3 separate regions of the Homo sapiens genome follow, and regions 1 and 2 are each linked to region 3. Evidence: fine-mapped expression QTL. A gene starts in region 3. Each other region holds a variant in brackets. All regions are shown on one strand. Distances are from middle to middle. Region 1 has its middle 38 kb from the start of FGD2. Region 2 overlaps FGD2 (FYVE, RhoGEF and PH domain containing 2). Region 3 holds the start of FGD2 (FYVE, RhoGEF and PH domain containing 2).

What was found. PIP is the estimated chance that this variant, and not a neighbour inherited with it, causes the effect.
Region 1: its variant is fine-mapped to the expression of FGD2 in monocytes (CEDAR, PIP 0.95). The same link has a PIP of 0.9 or more in B cells and monocytes after interferon gamma.
Region 2: its variant is fine-mapped to the expression of FGD2 in whole blood (TOPMed, PIP above 0.99). The same link has a PIP of 0.9 or more in lung.

What each region holds. Positions count from the first base shown.
Region 1 is chr6:37,040,327-37,047,835 of GRCh38, reverse strand. It overlaps the pseudogene COX6A1P2. Among named protein-coding and RNA genes, the nearest start is that of FGD2, 38 kb to the right of the region's middle. The variant T/AATAT (reference allele first, on the strand shown) is at 3,291.
Region 2 is chr6:37,025,287-37,032,795 of GRCh38, reverse strand. It overlaps FGD2 (FYVE, RhoGEF and PH domain containing 2), which reads right to left. Exons shown (of 16, transcript NM_173558.4): 14 at 6,858-7,004; 15 at 5,221-5,367; 16 at 3,727-4,848. The coding sequence ends at 4,633. Among named protein-coding and RNA genes, the nearest start is that of FGD2, 23 kb to the right of the region's middle. RefSeq lists enhancers at 3,074-3,153, 6,438-7,375, 7,087-7,509. The variant T/C (reference allele first, on the strand shown) is at 3,732.
Region 3 is chr6:37,003,736-37,009,721 of GRCh38, reverse strand. FGD2 (FYVE, RhoGEF and PH domain containing 2) reads right to left here and starts at 4,067. Exons shown (of 16, transcript NM_173558.4): 1 at 3,837-4,067; 2 at 657-888. The coding sequence starts at 3,904. RefSeq lists enhancers at 1,932-2,101, 3,922-4,051 and a silencer at 4,307-4,469.

The sequences.
Region 1 (7,509 bases), 37 kb before region 3:
GAATATATTTGACACGTGGAAGCATGTGGCCTCAAGAATAAGGATGCCTGGGCCTCTAGCGCACTTGGAAGACAGGCTGGGGATATGGAGACAGTGAATTTCCTGCAGGCCAGAAACCACATCCGGGGGTCTAGGAGCAGCAGGGTGGTGGTGAGGGAGTGAGCTAGAACCTCTAGGGTTAGAGATGGGGTCCGGTCTGGGAGGCAGGAAGACCCCTCTGATAGGAGTGTCAGACAGACGAAAGCAGGTCCCAAAAGGTCCCTGCAGAGGTGACTGGTGAGACCAGACAGAGCCTCAGAGCCAGGCTGCAGCTCTGCACGGGGACCTGAGGACCCACCAGGAGCTGAGACCCGGGCTCTCCAGGCTCGTGGGATGGTGGGATTGCTTCTGCCTGCTGGGAAGGCCAGGGTGCAAACCTGCAGCCTGCAGTGGAGGTGCCTGGGGGCTGGAGGTGCCCAAAGTCCCCATAACTGCCATCAGCTCTATACCTCAGAGGCACCACTAGAAAATGTCTTTGTTTTGGACAATGGACATTTTCTCAGTCTTATATGAAGTATACATTAAAAAGTGTCTTCAGGGCCAGGCATGGTGGCTCACACCCGTAATCCTAGCACTTTGGGAGGCCAAGGTGCGCGGATTGCCTGAGCTCAGGAGTTCGAAACCAGCCTGGGCAACATGGTGAAACCTTGTCTCTACTAAAATACAAAAAATTAGCTGGACGTGGAAGCGAAGTGAATCCCAGCTACTCAGGAGGCTGAGGCAGGAAAATTGCTTGAACCTGGGAGATGGAGGTTGCAGTGAGCCGAGATCGCGCCACTGCACTCCACCCTGGGTAAAAGAGCGAGACTCCGTTTCAAAAAAAAAAATGTCTTTAGTAAACATGACGTCTTCATAACAAAGTATCATAGACTGGGTGGTTTAAACACAGAAGTTTATTTTCTCACAGTTCTGAAAGCTGGAAGTCCAGGAGCACAGTGTCATCAGGGCAGGTTTCTGAAGCCTCTCTTTTTGGCCGGGAGCCGTCTTCTCTCTTTCTCTTCACATGGTCTTTCCTCTGCACATGTCTCTCCTCATTTCCTCTTCTGATTGGATCAGGGCCCATCCTCATGACCTTATTTTACCTGAATTACCTTTTTAAACATCCTGTCTTTAAATGCAATCACATTCTGAGGTACTTGGGGTTAGGACTTCAATATAGGAGTTTTGGGGACATAGAATTAAACTTGTAACACTTATGATTTTTTTTTTGAGATGGGGTCTTGCTGTGTTGTCCAGGCTGCAGTGCAGTGGCACCATCATAGCTCACTGCAGCCTCAAACTCCTGGGCTCAAACCATCCTCCCACCTCAGCCTCCACAGTAGTTGAGAGTACAGGCACAAGCCACCACACCTGGCTAGCTTAAAAAGAATGTTTTAGAGAGGGGGTCTCACTATATTGCCCAGGCTGATCTCGAATTCCTAACCTCAAGTAATCCTCCTACCCTCAAGTGATCCTCCTGCCTCAGCCTTCCAAAGTGCTGAGATGACAGGTGTGAGCCACTGCACCCAGCTGGCCCCAGCCCACTTTTTAAGCTATGATGTAAGTACAAACAGTGGGCTGGCTTTGGAAGTGCAGATTGTATACTGGTCCCAAGATCATCCTATGCAAATTCTGGCGCCTCCCATGCCTACTAGTTTTGATTAGAGGTAGTTTAGGGACACAGCCTGCACTCAGGATGTCCCCTCTGGACATGGCCACCACTGGCCAGCTGGACTGGGAGGGGGTCAGTGTTGTCACCAACATGATAGGACTTCTTAGAACAGGCCTGGCAGCTCTCTCTAACCAACGATGTATGTCTGGTAATCTTTGACTTTGAAAACTCTGTTCTCTTTAAAAACAAAGTTTCAAATTCTGTATCTGGAGCTGCTATTTATAGAATCATCTAGGAATCCTTCACAAAAAAAGGAGACAAATTTGTAGCATTTGTGTTTTTACAAAGTAGCACATTTATTGTTGAAAAACACAGGTGAAAGAGAAGAAAACAAAATCAACAGTAATTGGACCTCCCAGAGATCAGTGTTAACATTTTGGTTTCTGTATCTATCTTCATCTCTCCCTGTGTTTTAATCTACATCTCAATCTACACTTATATAATTCAATTGACTTGAAAGATAAGATTACACGGTGCCATGTCATAACTTCTTATCAATTAGTATATCATGATCACTTCCCAGGGCATGGGATCGTTTTCTAAGAGGCCATTAAAGACGGTGGCCGAGTACGAGAATGGCATAAGCTATTCAACAAATTTCCTATTGTTGAATAATTGGGTTGTTTTACCTTTTTCACAATATCAAATGAAGCTGTGATAACATCCTTTAAGCTAAATCTTTGCCATGATCATTTACTAAGGATAAATTCGTAGAAGCGAAACTTCTGAGTTAAAGACAAAGCATTATTTTATTTTATTTTTTTAAGTTTAAGTTATTTATTTAAGCCATCTCCCGCCACAAGCAAAGGGATGGGAGACCAGTATACCAGTCATCATTTGATACAAGTAAAGAAGGTGAGCTTAAGGTCCCATATACTTTTTCTGGTCCATGTGCAGAGTAATGGTCCAAACCAGTGCTGTGGTCCCTGGTGCCCGGGTAGTGGTCCAGATTCTCTTTATTCATCTTCGTAGCCAGTTGGAAGTGGATTCACATGAGGGTTATGGAATAGAGTATGGTTACCATCTCCCCAGGGAAACGGCTTGGTCCTGATGCGGAGATGGGGGTAGGCGATGAACTCGGGTCTCTCGTGCTCTCCGTGGTGCGACTTCAGGTACACATTCAGCATGCTGACTGCCACCCCGGGGAGCGCGACGAAGAAGGTGAGGGTCTTCCACATGCGAGCTGAGCCCTCTTCTCCATGGGCGCCACTCGACATAGGCCGCCCCAGCTGTGGGCGGGACCGACCCAGCAGCCGAGAAACCGAGAACACACCAACTGCCGCCATTTTTGATCTGGACTGCCGCAGCGCCGCAAAGCATTATTTTAAAATGTTCAACTTTATTTACTTTTGAATAGATAATATATATGGTGTATATATACACATTACAAAATATATGTGTATTATCTCTATGCATATGTACATATATCTCTATGTGTGTGTATATATATAAAATATATAAATATATATAATATATAAATATATATAAAATATACATATATAAAATATATAAATATATAATATATATACATAAAATATATATAAATATATATAATATATATACATAAAATATATAAAATATATATAATATATATACATAA[T/AATAT]ATATAAATATATATAATATATATACATAAAATATATATAAATATATATAATATATACATAAAAATATATAAATATATATAATATATATACATAAAAATATATAAATATATATAATATATATACATAAAAATATATAAATATATATATAATATATATACATAAAAAATATATAAATATATATATATTATATATATATATATTCAGAGACAGGGTCTTGTTCTGTCGCCCAGGCTGGAGTGCAGTGGTGCAATTGTAGCTCACTGCAATTCAAACTCCTGGGCTTCAGTGATCCCCCTGCCTCAGTCTCCCAAGTAGCTGGGACTATAGGCATGTGCCACTATGACAGGCTGCTTTGTTTGTTTTGTTTTGTTTTAATTTTTATTAGAAACGAGGTCTCTCTATGTTGCCCAGGCTGGAGTGCAGTGATGTTATCATAGCTCACTGCAACCTTGAACTCCTGGGGTCCAGTGATTCTCCTGCCTCAGCCTCCCCAGCAGCTGTGACTACAGGCACACATGCCACAACATCCAGTTAATTTTTGTCTTTTTCATAGAGATGAGGTCTTGCTATGTTTCCCAGGCTGATTTCGAACTCTTGGCCTCAAGTGATCCTCCTGCTTCAGCCTCCCCAAATGCTGGGATTACAGGCATAAGCCACTGTGCCTAGCTATTTTTTTTTTTTTTTCCACAAATGGTAGTTGCTATGGTTTGAATGTGTCCACCAAAGTTCATGTGTTGGAAACTCAATCTCCAATGCAACAGTGTTGGGAAGCAAGGCCTAATGAGAGGTGATTAGGTCATGAGGGCAGAGCCAGGATAATGCAATTACTGTGGGAATGGGTTAGTTATTTTAAGAATGGGCATATTATAAAAGTGAGTCTGGGGCCGGGCGCAGTGGATCATGCCTGTAATCCCAGCACTTTGGGAGGCCGAGGTGGGCGGATCACGAGGTCAGGAGATCAAGACCATCCTGGCTAACACAGCGAAACCCCATCTCTACTAAAAATACAAAAAAAAAATTAGCCGGGCGTGGTGGCACGTGCCTGTAATCCCAGCTACTCAGGAGGCTGAGGCAGGAGAATTGCTAGAACCCGGGAGGTGGAGGTTGCAGTGAGCTGAGATCGCACCACTGCACTCCAGCCTGGGTGACAAAGCGAGACTCTGTCCCAAAAAAGAAAGAAAAAAAGTGAGTCTGGCCCCCTTTTGCTCTCTTGCTCTTGCCCTCTCTTGCCCTTCCACTTTCTGCCATGGGATGATGCAGCACAAAGGCTGTCACCAGATGCCACCATCATGCTCTTGGATTTCCCAGCCTCCAGAACTATGAGCCAAATACATGTATTTTCTTTATAAATTACCCAGTCTGTGGTATTCTGTTATAGCAACACAAAATGAACTAAGACAGCAGTATCCTCTATACTATTCTGCACTTTGCATTTTTTCACTTAAGAAATTATCTTGTAGAGTTTTCCAAGTCAGTACTACATAATATTTTATTATATGCATTTACCATAATATATTTAAGTAGTCCCCTGTTGGATAGACGTAGTCCCTTATTGATGGTTACATATTAGTTATATATGACTGTATAACATATTATCCAGAAGTTCAGTGGCTTAGAAAAACAATAAAAAATTATTTTCTCATACAGTTTTTTGCTGGTAAGAAATTTGAGAAGGATTCATCTGGGCAGTGCTCACTTGGGGTCTTTCATGTGGCTGTAGTCAGATGCAAATTGAGGCTGAAGGTATCTGAAGGCTCAACTGGGACTAGAAGATCTACTTCTTTCTTTCTAAAAAAATTTATTATTACTGTTTTTGGAGATGAGGTCTTAGTATGTTGCTCAGGCTAGTCTCGAACTGGGCTCAAGCGATCCTCCCACCTCAGCCTCCTGAGTAGCTGGGACCACAGGTGTGTGCCACCAGGCCTAGCTAATTTTTCAATTTTTTGTAGCAATAGGAGTCTCACTGTTTTTCTCAGGCTGGTTTCAAACTCCTGGGCTCAAGCAATCCCCTACCTTGGCCTCTCAAAGTGCTGGGATTACAGGCATGAGCCACCATACTGGGCTCAAGAAAATCTATGTCTAGAGTTACTCACTCATACAGCTGGAAAGCTGGTGCTGGCTGTAGGTGGGGGCCTCAGTTCCTCTCTACATGGATCTCTCCACAGAGCTGCTCGAGTGTCCTCTGGAAGCTGTCCAGGAAGCTGAGGCAGAAGCTGTGATGCCTTTTATAACCGAGCCTTGGAAGCCACACACCTTTGCTTCCACTACATTCTATTGGTTATGGCAACTACAAAGGTTTGCCCAGGTTCAAGCAGAGGGAATTGACCCTACCTCTCAAAGGAGGATGCTAACATCGCATTATAAGAAGAGCATGGGAAATGGGATATATCAGTGCTTCCATCTTTAGAAAATACAGTCTGCCATAGGTTATTTCCAATATTTTGCTATTACCATATGTTAGTAAGTAGATTTTAAAGACTTTCTATATGTATTGCCAAATCTCCTTTAGAAAGTTGTACTAATTTAGATTCCAACCCCTGGTGATTGAGAAAGTCAATTTCTCTGTATCTTTACTAGCACTAAGTTTATCTTTTAATTAAAAATCTCTGCCAATTTGATATGCAAGAAATGGTATGTCATTGTTTTAAGAAAATTCCTTCTAAGAAAGCATAAGAGCTAAATTTGAGTAGCGGTATCTATATTAGTTTGCTAGTTTAGTTGCTATATTAGTTTCTGCCATAAGAAAATACCACAAACTGGGTCGCTTAAACAACAGAAATTTATTGTCTCATAGTTCTGGAGGCTGCAAGTCTAAGATCAAAGTATCACAGGTTTTTTTCTCCTGAGGCCTCTTTCCTTGACTTGCAGACGGCCGCCTTCTCACTGCTGCCTTTCCTCTGCACACGCATCCCTGATGTCTCTTCTTTTTCTTTTTTTTTCTTTTTTTAAGACAGAGTTTCACTCTTGTTGCCCAGGCTGGAGTGCAGTGGCACGATCTCAGCTCACTGCAACCTCCACTTCCTGGGTTCAAGTGATTCTCCTGCCTCAGCCTCCTGAGTAGCTGGGATTACAGGCGCCCACAACCACGCCCAGCTAATTTTTGTATTTTTAGTAAAGACAGGGTTTCACCATGTTGGCCAGTCTGGTCACAAACTCCTGACCTCAGGCAATCCTCCCGCCTTAGCCTCCCAAATTGCTGGGATTACAGGCGTGAGCCACCATACGCGGCCTGTCTCTTCTTTTACTTATGATACCAGTCATGTTGGATTAAGGCCCTTATGACCTCCTTTAATCTTAATTACCTCTTTAAAGGTCCTATCTCCAAATATAATCACACTGGGGACTAGGGCTTCATCATATAAGTTTTGGGGGGACACAGTTCAGTCTATAACAGCACCTTTACTGATTTGCTGAGTAATCTTGGGACAGCCACATATCTCTCTGAGCCTCAGTTTTCTTATCTGTTTAATGGAGAGATACCACATTTCCTTTTCCTCTTTCTCAATGGGTTGTCATGACAAATTAGATAGAACCTGTGGAGCTGAGCGTGGTGGCTCATGCCTGTAATCCTAGCACTTTTCAAGGCCGAGGCAGGCGGATTGCTTGAGCCCAGGAATTTGAGAACAGCCTGGGCAACATGGTGCAATCCCATCTCTACAAAAAATTTAAAAAATTAGCCAGTCATGGCCGGGCGTGGTGGCTCACGCCTGTAATCCCAGCACTTTGGGAGGCCGAGGCAAGTGGATCACTAGATAAGGAGATCGAGACCATCCTGGCTAACACAGTGAAACCCCGTCTCTACTAAAAAAATACAAACAAAAAAAAAATTAGCCAGGCGCAGTGGCGGGCGCCTGTAGTCCCAGCTACTCGGGAGGTTGAGGCAGGAGAAAGACGTGAACCCGGGAGGCGGAGCTTTCAGTGAGCCGAGATTGTGCCACTGCACTCCAGCCTGGGCGAAAGAGAGAGACTCCATCTCAAAACAAACAAACAAACAAAAATTACCCACGCATGGTGGCATGTTTCTGTGGTCCCAGCTACTCAGGAGACTGAGGTGGAAGGATTACTTGATCCCAGAGGGTTAAGGCTTCAGTGAGCCACGATCATGCCAGTATACTCCAGCCTGGGCTGCAGAGCAAGACCCTGCCTCAGAAAAATAAAAGGAACATGTGAAAGGGTTCTGGAGAATATAATTATTAACACATAAAATGCTTACAATTT
Region 2 (7,509 bases), 22 kb before region 3:
TCTACTAAAAATACAAAAAAATTAGCCCAGCGCAGTGGCGGGCGCCTGTAGTCTCAGCTACTCAGGAGGCTGAGGCAGGAGAATGGCATGGACCCGGGAGGCGGAGCTTGCCACTCGCACCACTGCACTCCAGCCTGGGTGACAGAGCGAGACTCCGTCTAAAGAAAAAAAAAAAGAAAGAAAGAAACAAAATAGATAAAACGATTTGTATTATGTGAAGCAGAGTCAGGGGCAGAGTTGCCAGGAGCACTACGTGAGGCAGGTGGACAAGGAAGCCTGTCCGAGGGCCAATGAGGCAGAGACTGGAGAGAAGTGAGGGAGTGCATCGGGCGGATTTCTGGAGGAACAGCATCCAGGCTGAACGAGCAGCAGGTGCAAGAGTCCTGAGGTGGAAGTGTGCTGAGGGAGGGAGGTGAGATGGGGCAAGGGAAGGGGGAACTCTGAGAAGCAGCCAGGGGTCATCCCAAAGGGCCTGGTGGAGCACACGGAGGGAGGCATTAGATGGGCTTCTAACCCCATGCTACTGGAGGGCTGGGAGCTGAAAACTAGCTCAGCTTTCAGATTTGAAAGAATCTGTGTGAAGATGCCAGAGGACAAGTGTGGGAGCAGGAAGGGCAGGTGGGAAGCTCTAGCAATCACCCCCAGAGATATCACAGTGGCCGGGCCAAGTGACAGCATGTGAGGGGTATGAGGTGTGAGGACGGGCTCTGTTCGCAGTATATCCTGAAGGTAGAAGCAACCAGGCTTGCGGCCAGAACAAATGGTCCCAGGAAAGCAGAAACGTCCATGAAGAGCATAGCTAGTAACAACTCCCAGCCAGCGAGCTCCGTCTGTGGGCTAGGAGCTTTCCCTGAATTATCTCACTTGGTTTTCACACCAAATCCTACAAAGAGGCACTGCTTGTCAAGTTACAATGAATACATGGAGGCTCAAGAGGTTGGGTGATATCCCCAAGACCCTATGTCAAGCCTTCAACAGAACTGGAATTTGAGCTTTTCAGGCTATCAAGGGGGTGCCCTTTGCATGATATCAGCTGCCCCTGAGATTTGGAAAGTAGTAGCATATTACCTTGCCAGGCGTGGTGGCTCACACCTGTAATCCCAGCACTTTGGGAGGCCAAGGCAGGTGGGTCACCTGAGGTCAGGAGTTTGAGACCAGCCTGGCCAACATGGTGAAACCCCGTCTCTACTAAAAATACAAAATTAGCTGGGCGTGGTGGTGCATACCTGTAATGTCAGCTACTTGGGAGGCTGAGGCAGGAGAATCGCTTGAACCTGGGAGGCAGAGGTTGCAGTGAGCGGAGATCGTGCCACTGCACTTCAGTCTGGACAACAAGAGCAAAACTCCATCTCAAAAAAAAAAAAAAAAGAAAAGAAAAAGTAGTATAAGTAGTATACTACCTGGCACGTATTAGGTACACATAGTAGGTAATAATCATTTGCAAAATACCTACTTTTTTTTCATTTTGAGACAGGGTCTCAGTCTGTCACCCATGCTGGAGTGCAGTGGTACAATCATAGCTCATTACAGACTCAAACTCCTGGGCTCAAGCGATCCTCCTGCCTTGACCTCCCAAAGTGCTGGGATTACAGATGTGAGCCTGTATGCATTTCTTTGTATCATAAACATTTAAAAGGTCATGAGCCCTATACATTCACCAGAATGTCTAAAATTATTAATTTTAAAAAAACAAACTTCAAACCTGACTATACCAAATGCATGAGCAGGGGAAATGTCATACATTGCTGGTAGGAATGCAGAATGGTACAACCAATATGGAAAACAGCTTGGTAGTTTCTGATAAAGTTAGACACTTACTCAGTGACCCAATTTTAGGTATTTACCTAAGAGAAAAGAAAACGTGCTCACACAAACACTGAACATGAACGTTTATAGTTCATAGGAGTATTATTCATAATTGCCCCAAACTGGAAATAACCCAAGTATACTTAACCTGGTAAACAGATGAACAACTGTGGTATGCCCATGCAATGGAATACTACTCAGCAATGAAAAAGGAATGAACTACTGACATGGAGAACAAAATGGATGAATCTCAAATATATAATGCTGAGTAAAGGAAGCCAGGCTTAAAAAGCTATGGTTCCATTTAAATGACATCTGGAAAAGGCAAAATTATCAGTCAGAAACAGATCAATGGTTACCAGAGGCAAGGAGTAGGGGTGTGGGTTGACTACAAAGGGTGGCATGGGGACACTTATAGGGGGATTGTGGTGGTAGCTGTATGACTGTACTCTTCTGCCAAAACTTAGAAAATATACTAATAAGGGTGGATTTTACAGTCTGTAAATTACACCTCAGTAAACCTAACAATGACAGCACAAAGGTTGTGTGCCCTCGCTTCCCTCTCCTGACGGCTACCTCATTTTGCTCCACAGTGAAGCCACTCTCCATACTCCCACTCAGATTAAACCCCTGGAAAAGCTTAGGTATCAGTGCTGCAGAATCGACTCTGCTGTCACCGAGCCAGCTGCCTTCAGCATCATTGGCGAGTTTTAAAATGCTGATGCAGGCCAGGTGCAGTGGCTCATGCCTGTAATCCCAGTACTTTGGGAGGCTGAGATGGGTGGATCACCGGAGTTCAGGAGTTTGAGACCAGCCTGGCCAATATGGTGAAACCCCGTCTCTACTAAAAATACAAAAATTAGCCGGGCATGGTGGCGCACGCCTGTAATCCCAGCTACTTGGAAGGTTGAGGTAGGAGAATCACTTGAACCTGGGAGGCAGAGGTTGCAGTGAGCCAAGATGGCGTCACTGCACTCCAGCCTGGGTGACAGAGTGACAGACTCCATCTCAAAAATAAAAATAAAAATAAAAAATAAATAAAATGCTGATGCTGTCCGGGCATGGTGGCTCATGCCTATAATGCCAACACTTTAGGAGGCCAAGGCAGGAGGATTGCTTGAGCTCAGGAGTTTGAGGTCAGTCTGGGCAATATAGTGAGACCCCATCTCTACAAAAATTTTAAAAATTAGCTGGATGTGGTGGCGTGCACCTGTGCTTCTAGATACTCAGGAGGCTGAGGAAGGAGGATAGCTTAAACCCAGAAGGTCAAGGTTCCAGTGGGCTCTGATCACACCACTGCACTCCAGCCTGGATGACAGAGCAAAACCCTGTCTCAAATAAACAAACAAACACCCTACAGGAGGGAAGTGGCCTCAGGTTGGAGGCAGGCAAAGCTGCTGGGCCTGTGATGGGACAAAAACCTGTGACTCATCCATGCTTCCTCCTTTCAGGGCAGAGCCCAGCAATGGCTGGACCTGCTGAGAGCAGCTGAGGGTGTTCTGGCCACTGCTGGGGCCACTGCATGTGGCCTGCTGACCACTGCCACCCCCTGGTGGTCTCTTATGAAAAAGCATCCTCACCCACCAGCGAGGTGGGGATGAGGGGACAGGGATGCTCCTCCCGTCACCCTTCCTCCCACCATTCACCTTTCTCTCTTGTCTTCCCAGCTTCTTCACTCTCTTTCCCTCTCTTTTGCTTCTCCTCACTCTCCTCCCCTCTCTGCTTGTCTTATTGTTCTGCTCCATGATAGAAAGAGCTTTGACCTTAGTTCACCGGGTTAAAACCTGGCTCTGGCATCTACGAGCTACATGACCAATTGAGCCAATTACTAAACCTCTCTGAGTCGGTGTCTTCATCTGGAAATGGGGATAACTCTGGATGGTAAAATGACATAATCCACATAAAACACCTTGCACAGAGCCTGG[T/C]CCAATAGATGTTTATTATTATTATTACTACTATCATGACTGGCACTTGACAGGGGCTCAACCATTGGTTGTGGTAGTTTGCTCTCTTTATTCTTCATCCCAGGTAACCCAGGCTATATATTAGACTCCAGTGGGTACTCTTAAAAAATATGCATGCGCCAGGTATGGTGGCTCACGCCTGTAATCCCAGCACTTTGGGAGGTGGAGGTGGGAGCATCGCTTGAGGCTGGGAGTTTGAGACCAGCCTGAGTAACATGGTGAAATCCCATCTCTACAAAAAATAAAAAAATTAGCTTGGCACAGTGGCACACACCTATAATCCCAGCTACTTGGGAGGCTGAGGCGGGAGGATCACTGGAGCCCGGGAGAGCGAGGCTGTAGTGAGCCATGTTTGTGCACTCCAGCCTGGGAAACAGAGTAAGACTCTGTCTCAAAAAAAAAAAAAAAAAGACCCCATGCCTCCCCCAACTCAGCCCATTTAAATCGGTGGTGGTACTTCAGTACAGGCATTGTTTTTTACATTTTTAAAATTAATTTACTATGTGTTTTTCACCAGTACTCTTTAAAAGCTCCCCAGGAGATACAAATGAAAAACCATACTATGGTGACCACCAGTCCGGGGTTACCTGGGGCTTTCCCAGTTTTAGCACTGGAAGTCCCATGGCCCAGGAGCCCCCTCCCCGCAAGGCAAACTGAGACACTTGGTTGTCCCCTTTCTAGAAAGGAATGGACCCATATTTTCTAATCCCAGATCGGGACACGTGGCCTGGGCGCAGATGGCTGAATCAATTCTCTGAAAGCACCACTTGGGGCAGTGGGTCACTGAGGCCACAGGGTCAGTCTGTGGCAGGAGCTGGGTTCAGGGTGGGGAGAGGTGGGCAGGAGAGCGGCTGGCAGTGGCTCAGTCGGACAGGTCCCCATCGTTGGGCCAGCTGGGGCTCCAGCCACTGGCCGCCCGCTCCATGGCCTTCACCCAGCGGCCCTTCAGCTCCTCCGTCTCGGCCTTGAAGGTGTAGAGCTGGCCTGACTGCTGTAGCTGGAAGACCCGAGGGTCCCCCTGGGGCCCAACAGTCACCTGGTAGCCCAGCAGGGGGATGGAGGTGTGAGCCCTCATGTCCTGGGGGGAGGAGAGAGCAGTGGGCCACTGTCCCCTCTCAGTCCTACTGCCCCAGATAGCCATCGTGAAGGCAACAGCCACGCACGCACAGCTCACACCCTAAACCCCCATGGGTTGGGGGTGGGCTGGTGAAGGCCATCGAGGAAGAGGACAGAAGAACTGGCTGCCTCTGAGGGCAAAGCAGTGGTGACCTAGAGTCAGGGCACAATTCTGAAACCTACCAACCTTGAGACTCCAGGATACCATATCCTCATTGGGCCTCAGTTTCCCTATCTGACATATGGAGCTAGCAATACTCACCCCTGACCCCCTTCACACACACGCTGTGGGAAGGCCAGGGCCTGACGGGGGGCGGGCAGGTGGTGGCCTTACCTGAGGGGCAGCATAGACATAGAGCACGAGGGGGTCATCCCGAGGGATCACACACCAGCCCCGGGGGCCGCTCTTGCCCCACTTGTCCCCGATGAGCTGCAGGAAGCTGCACATCAGGCTCTGGTCAGGCGTGGCTGAGGACCCTTTCTAAAACCAGAAGGAGGGACTGTCAGGGAGCAGAGCAGCCGCAAGTGCCAGATGTTGGTCTGGGGGCTTGACAATCACTATCTCCAATCCTTACAGCAGTACTGAATGGAGGGGTCCTTGGTCCTTGAGGCTCAGAGAGGTCCCATCAAGTGCCTGTGGTCACACAGCTAGCTGGCCAGTGGCAGAGCTGCAGTCAAACCCCAGCCTGCCTGAACCTGTCGCGTGTGTGCCCACAAGGGGCAGGTGCCGGGAGGGTGCCTGGAGCTGCTCCAGGAAACAGAATTGGGCCCTGAGAAGGGGCTGAGCATCTCCAGGGGCAGGCTGTGTTGCCTAGTGGTCAGGGGGTCCTGGGCCTGGAAGGATGGGGAGGATTGGAAACGGGGTGGATGCCCGTGGAAAAAGGCCAACTTTTTTTTTTTTTTCAGATAGTTTCTCTCTTGTTGCTCAGGCTGGAGTGCAATGGTGCAATCTCAACACATTGCAACCTCCACCTCCCGGGTTCAAGAGATTCTCCTGCCTCAGCATCCCGAGTAGCTGGGATTACAGGCATGCACCACCATGCCCGGCTGATTTTTTTTTTTTTGTATTTTTAGTAGAGACGGGACTTCACCATGTGGGCCAGGCTGGTCTCGAACTCCTGACCGCACGTGATCCATCCACCTTGGCCTCCCAAAGTGCTGGGATTACAGGCATGAGCCTTCCCGCCTGGCCAAAAGAGGCCAACTTGAACCTGGGAGTGAATCTCAGCTGGCACAGGCTGGGACCTTCTCCCACCTCCCAGGGACGGTGGGATGTCAACCTGGCCTTCGTGAGGGAGGGGCAGTGGACAGTGGTATTGATGCTGAGCTGGTTGACATTGTATTTGTGCTGCCTAGCTGAGCACAGTTGTACCCCCACAGGGGAGCACCTGTGGGGGCAAGTGTGGCTCAGTGAGGCCCCCAGGGCAACAGAAAGAACATCTGTGACTGAGATCAGAGAGCTGGCTCCTAACTTGCTGTGTGATCTTGGGCAAGTCACTCCTCCAGCCCTGGGTCTCCATGGGATAAGACCGACTGGCCCCTGGAGTCCCTTCCAGTTAGAATGGAGTCTCCAATCTGTCTGACCTGGAGCGTCAGTGTTCCCATCTGTAAAATGGAAGCGGTGACACCAGCTCTTGGCACCCTGGGACTGTCGGGGCAGGACATGGGGACGTGAACATGAGCTGTCCAGAGGGGCCGTACTATCGGATGGGGACATAGAGGAAGTGCAGAAGAATGTGGACGACAGCCTGCAGCCAAAGGGTGCCTCCATTTGGTGACAGGCTCCACACTGCCTGGGCTGTGGCGAGAGGCCTGGGGTCTGTGGGCAGAGAGAGGAAGAGGGAGAGGGGGGAGGGTGTGACCATGGCTGGCTTGTTCCTCAGCACTGGACAGTGTCAGCCCAGCATGGTTGCCGGGCACACATTCCCTGAACAGAGGACGGATGGTGAGCGCGGGGACAGTGGCCCTCACCTCCAGGATGCCCCGCCTCTTGTCCTCCTTGGCCTCAGGCAGCACATTTCCAGTGAGGAATGCGTAGCAGTGGAGGCAGACTCGGTTGGGCCTGTTGTCGTCGTATTTCAGTTCGGCCCGGTAGTCGGAGCACCTGGCACACACCACCTGAGGAGGACACATAAGGGGGCATGGGGCTGAGACCAGGCACCGGAGGGCTGGGCTCCTGCCTTGGTGGGCAGGTGGGGGCATGAGAGCAACCAGGGACTGGGGGAGGAAAAGAAAGCTTCGAGGGAGGAATAGAGGCAGAGCGGGGATGCTCCCCCATGCTGGTGAGGCCCAACTGCCTGGAGGCTGCGACACATGGGGGAGCTCGGGCTCGGGGCTCTTAGGCTGAGGGTTCAAGACCCGGCCCCCACCGCGAGGGCCGTAACTTCTCTCCCCTCCAGGTTCCCTCCGAGTGAGGGCTGCTGTGAACCCAAGGGGCTTGCCCCAGACGGGCCACTGGCATCTGATTCACTTTTCCAAATGCTGTCCTCTCCGCCATCTCACCTGACTCTCCCAAAGACCCCACCAGGCAAGCAGGGCCCAGCTTTTGTCCTCTCCTGACCCTGAGAGCCACACTGTTACCTGGCAGACAGGCCCTCCACACACAGGGTGTGTCTTTCAAGTC
Region 3 (5,986 bases):
TTTTTGATAGGTTTGTTCAGCAGCGATTGAAAACCAGGACGCATTACTATAACCACTATCCCCATTTTACAAATGAGGAAACTGGCACAAAGAGACTCAAGTGACTTGCCCAAGGACACACAGTTAGTAAGCAGACGTGCTGGGATGTGACTCCAGGGAATTTGGGTGCACAGTATCTGCATGCCAACCCTTGAACTCTGCAGATGAGAAAACTGCAAGCCACAGAAGAGATCAGACTGGGCTTTAGTCTAAGGGCAGGACAGTTCACACTCAGACCTCTATTTCTAGGTTGAGATTGTTGTCTCCTCCAGTGGGTAAACTGAGGCCCCACCTGAGAAGAGTATTAGGTTCACAAGATGGAGACTGTTCCAAGCTGTGTGGCCTTGAATAAGTTCCTTAAAACTGTGTTTCAACTTCCTTGTCCAAAAAACTCCTACACGAGGGACTCGCGAAGTAATCCAGCACGGTGCGTAGCAGGCAGTTAGTGAATCAAAGGCCATTAAGCATGGGGAAATCTAGCTCCCAGCTGACCTCTGATCACACCATACCCCCACCTGGGGAACTGCTGGCTCTGGCTAGGAAAGCATGTGTGGAGGGGAGGTCAGGGAGAGCTCCCCACCCCAGCACCCCACACCTCTACCTCAGCCCTCAGGCACCTGCGTCCCCGATCCTGAGAGGGTCACAGGCTGGCAAGATTTCCTCCAGGCTTCGCTGGACAGCTTGTTCTTCAGGGAGTTCAGGTACCTCCTGCTGACTGTCCTGGGCTCAGACCCCACGGCCTCCCCGACATTCGTCTTCTCCCGTGGTCCTGGGGACTCGGGAGGCCTGCACTCAGGGCGGTGATGCACGTCCTCTAGCCTCTGGCCTCTGGGTGCTGCTTCTGGGGTCCTGAGGAGAAGAGACAGACCTGAGGGCTTCCTCCCTGGAGAACAGGGAAAACAGCAGCAAGTCCCTGGTGTGGATTTGGGTTGCCTGGTGCAAATCCCCAGTGCAGGGGCCCCTGGGTGCCTGGCTTTCTTTGGGAACATGCTGAGTAAGACTTTCACTTCTCTCCCAACACATTCTTGGAGGGAACTCAGTGTTCAAAATGAGTCAGGGTGGACTATATTTTATTTTCTGGGGAACTGCATACTTCCTTGTTTAAAATGAAGCCACAGTGTCCAGGAATCCTTTCTGTATATAGGGGTTTTTGAGTGGTACCCCCTGGATTATCCTCACCTTTGGACCTCACCTCTGTTTTCAGTTTCCACATCAGTAACCTATACATCAAGGGAAGGTAGGAGCCACAGAACAATATAAAGTGAGAGCAGGCCTGCAAAAGCTGGGGCTTCTCAATGGGATCGACATCCTCCACACGTCCAGAAGCAGGGAGAGCCAGCCCAGCAGCAGATGCTCTGTTCTCCCAGGGACGGGCCTTCGTAGGTCACCTTTATTACCCTGTGTACTGGGTTCTGCAAGCCAGTCAAATTCCTTAGACAACAGGGCCCACCCTTGATGAATACACCCAACGTTGCCCTTGGTGTGGAAGGGCTTGTGATGACAGAACAGGGCAGGCATCCTTATGAGAAAGACAGGCCAGGAAATGGAAGGCCAAACAAATACGAAATCTCCAAAACTCCGTGAGAAAGGTTTTCATTACCCATATTTTGCACTCAAGGAAACTGAGGTCTGGACAGGATGAGTAACATGCGGCTCGGAAGTGGCAGAGGTGGGATTCAAATCAGGCGACTGCTTCCTGAGCCTTCACTCTAACCTGCCCCTCCCCATTTGAGTAAAGGAGAAACAGGTCCGCGGAGTCAAAGTGACTTGCCCCAAGTGACACAATTGGGTTTGTGGCAGCGAAAGCATTGGGACCTAGTGCTGTGTGGCTACTCCCAGGCTCTCCCACCCCTCCCTGGCACCCCAGTCCCTGGTTTCTCAGCCCATGGGTCTGCAGCTCATGGGCGTAGCTGGTTCTCAGGCTTTCTGTTCTACATTTGGTTTCAGGTTCTGCATTTCTGTTCTAGGGCCCCTGGCCAGCTTCTGTTTCCTCTTTGCCCCTCAGTTTCAGATCAGCTGAGGTGCTGGAGACCTCATAAGGAAGCCCAGGCCAAGGCAGTTGGTATGGGTCCCCTCACTCAGTAAGGAGTGGCTCTCACCCTCTTGATGCCTGCTGGGACCTAACTCCCGTCTAAGGGCTGCCCACTCCTGCCAGGGTTATTGCCTGGGCAGAGCACAGCATGCTGAGGGGCTCCACCCAGGTGTGCCTAGTCCACGTCAAGCATGTTGAGTGAGGTGGTACCATCCACCCACACCCAAGGGGGTGGTGGGCCAGGAAGGCGGCACCCAAGAGCTGTCTTTGGTGCTGAACAGGACGAGCTTGGCAAAGATCCCGGGAGAGGCAGGGGAGAATCACCCAGCTCAGGAAGTTGAAGACTTCTAGGTCTACATCTATGCCATCTCCACCCTGAAGCCTACAGGAAACATTGCCTGCCATGAGTGCCCTCAATACAGCATCCGGGCCATTCCTAGGACATCTACTGTCTATGACCTTGCATCATAGTTATTCGATGAGCTCAGCATCCAAATACTGAAACCCTTCTTCATCCTCTACAGTTCCTGTAGGATGCTGTGCTGTGCCACCCATGTCCCTCCTTCAGGAATGAGGCCTCCCCACACCATCCCCACCAGCTACTGGTAGTACTGGGGGCTGCCGGGTAATTTATTGGCTGAGTCCCTCTCTGGGAATCACTCTCTGGAAGAGAGAGCTGCCTCACCCAGAGTCTCTTGTCCAGTCCACATGGAGATACAAATACCCAGCCCTCTTCCTCAGCTGGAACAACCGAGAGGCATCCCAGCTCCAGAGCTCCCTGGGACAGGCTGAGGCCTCTGTGGCAGGTGCACTGCAGTTCAGCATCTCCCCCTGCCCGGCCCTGCTTCCCTCACACCCACAGCTGTTGTTCCCAAAAGCTCTCCCTGATAAATCACCTGAGGCAAACCTCTGTCTGAGTCTATTTCCAGAAAACCCTACCTGGGACAGCCCCTAACACAGTCCTGAGCTTAAGAAATGCCTGCAGAATGGATTGATGCCACACATAACACACAACACACACATACACACACGCGCACACACACAAACACACATGCTCCCAGGGCTACCAATGACTCCACGCATCTGGCCCAGCCTTTTCCCTCCAGACAGACGCCCCAGCATTGCCCCAGATACTTAAAGCACTTGGCATCCTCACCTCTCTGTGTCTCCATTTCCTCATCTATAAGACGGGAACAGAAACAGAATCTACCCCTATTAGGCTGTTCGATGACTAAATTAAATAAGTAAGGACATGAACTTAGAGTAGGGAGTACCCCATCAGGATGCTGCCCGTACATCCTGGTTTGCCTCATACGGTCCCAGCTTTACCTGTAATGCCTCCCCCACAACCACCACATTTTATTTGGCATTTACTTTCAGTTTCAATTGTGTGCTGAATGATAAATTATATGGTTATCCTAATCATAGGGCGTAAATTCTTGGTGAGTATCAGCTACCTTTTCTGAGAGGTGCTGGCAGGCACTGGGTGGGGTCCTGTGCCCACACACAGGCTTTGGTCTGCCCATGCTTGCTCGTAACCACACCTGTCTGGACTCTCCCAACACACACTGGCACTCTCACCCCTGCCTGGCTCCTGGTGTCCCACCGACACTCTCCCATGCTCCAAGGAATCCGTGACCGAGGAACGCGGGGCTGCCCCTGCAGGAGGAGGGTCCGGGGCAGGGCCCAGGGAGAGAGCTGCCAGAAAGGCTGGAGGGTGGCTGCCAGCCCACCATGGTGACCCTCCCACCCCAGCTGCCCATACCTGCTATTCTCAAACACAGTGACCAGGTTGGACACAGATGCCAGCTTCTCCTCACTTGCCCCCTTCATCCTGCCGGTTTCCGGGGTGGATCTCAGCTACCCTCGAAGCAGAGAGAGAGGCCTCCAGCCAGCACACTCAGCCACGCTGGCCTGGGACAGATAGGCTAAATCACCCATGAATCTGTTCTGATCTTTCTTGAGGGCTCAGAAGGTCGGCTCTTGGCTTCAGAGTGAAGAAAGAGGAAGTGGTCCCAGAGCCACAGCCCTGCAGGGGAAAGGCCAGCACTCCCGCAGTGGGAGGAGCCTGCTCGGGCCCCACCTCTCCCTCAGGGGGGCTGACCTTTCACACCTGTAGACCCCCATTCCAGAAGCCACCTAAGAGGTGGCAACAGGGCCCAGAGGTAGCTTCTGGAGCCCAGTCTGGGCTGGTGCAGTGGTTTGCACCTCTAATTCCAGTGCTTTGGGAGGCCGAAGCAGGAGGATTGCTTGAGCCCAGGAGTTCAAGACCAACCTGGGCAACATAGTGAGACACCGTCTCTTAAAAAAAAAAAAAAAAAAAAAGGCCACCCGGAGCCAGACCCTTGGCTGGTTTCTTGGCCTAGTGGTTCCAGCCAACCACACTTTCTCCTTCAGAAGGTCCAGTGGCTTTTACTTGGCCTCTTTCCCAGCACCTTCTTTTCTGCATCTGCCCCTGCTCACAGCTGTAAGGAAATAATGTCTTTTTTATTCTTTAGAGACAGAGTGCGGTGGTGGGATCTCGGCTCACTGCACCCTCTGCCTCCCGGTTCAAGCGATTCTCCTGCCTCAGCCTCCTGAGTAGCCGGGATTACAGGGCCTGCCACCACGCCCTGCTAATTATTTGTATTTTTAGTAGAGATGGGGTTTCACCATGTTGCTCAGGCTGGTCTTGAACTCCTGGCCTCAGGTGATCCTCCTGCCTCGGCCTCCCAAAATTCTGGGATTACAGATGTGAGCCACTGTGCCTGGCCAGGAAACAGCATGTTTTATTTAAAATAATCACAAACCTGGTAAGGGTGGCAGGGAGTACTGTGATGTTCCCACCTCCCCACTGGGGTTCTCTCATTTTAGTTGTTGCTGTCATCACCTCATTGCCCCAAGGGAGGGCAGTTTCCTCCCTGAAACTCAGAGGATAATAATAGCTAACATGCACTCTTTTTCATGCTTATGAGTATTTTCTTATTAATCCTATAACAACCTCATGAGGTAGGTACTATTCCTATCCCCACTTTACATAGGAAGAAACAGAATCAGAGAGGTTAAGTAACTTGCCCAAGGTCACCCAGGAAGAATACAAGAGAAGTTGGATTTCCAAAGCAAAAGTGGGTGTCCTACAGTTCCAGCAAAGGTTCGTTGGGAGCCTGGATGACCATGTTCTTGCTGCTCCATCCCCAGGCCTCCCTGATCCCAGGACACTGGGTTGTCTTTGCCTGAGGCCTCCTTTACCACCTGGTCTCCCGGCCCTTACAGAACAAATGGACGCTGCCTCTGTTCCCCTCCTTCAAGCCCCACAGGCCGTTCAGGGCCCTCCCACTGGGCTCTGGTCCCACCAGGGCTCTCCACTGAACCTGGTCTGTGTCCTGGAGTGCAGGGCCTGAGCCTCGGTGCTCTTGGTACGTGAAGTGCCTGGAACAGCTTCACGCTCCAGTAACTGTGAACCCCTGGGGCCTCACATGCCCAACAGCCGCCCTCACCCCAAGCCTCGTCTGAGTGGTTTCTCCCACCAGATGCCGGGCCCCCTGCCCCAAACCCTAAGTCTCACAAACCTCCATTTTTGTTTTTTACTTTTTATTATGGAGAATTTAGAACATATGCAAAACTAGACAGAATCATATAATGCATCCCATGAACCCCTAATCCAGACCATAACAAACCTCAGCTCACAGCCAGTCCCCTGTCCCTGCTGCAGCCACATCGACTCTGCCTTCTCATGTCATTTTGAAGAAAATCCCAGATGTCAGATGACATTACCCATAAACATTTTAGTGTGTATCTAGAAGATGAGAACTCTCTCTCTCTTTTTTTTTTTTTTTGAGACTGAGTCTTACTCTGTCACCCAGGCTGGAGTGCAGTGCTGCAATCTCGGATCACTGCAATCTTCACCCCACTGGGTTCAAGCGATTCTCCTGCCTC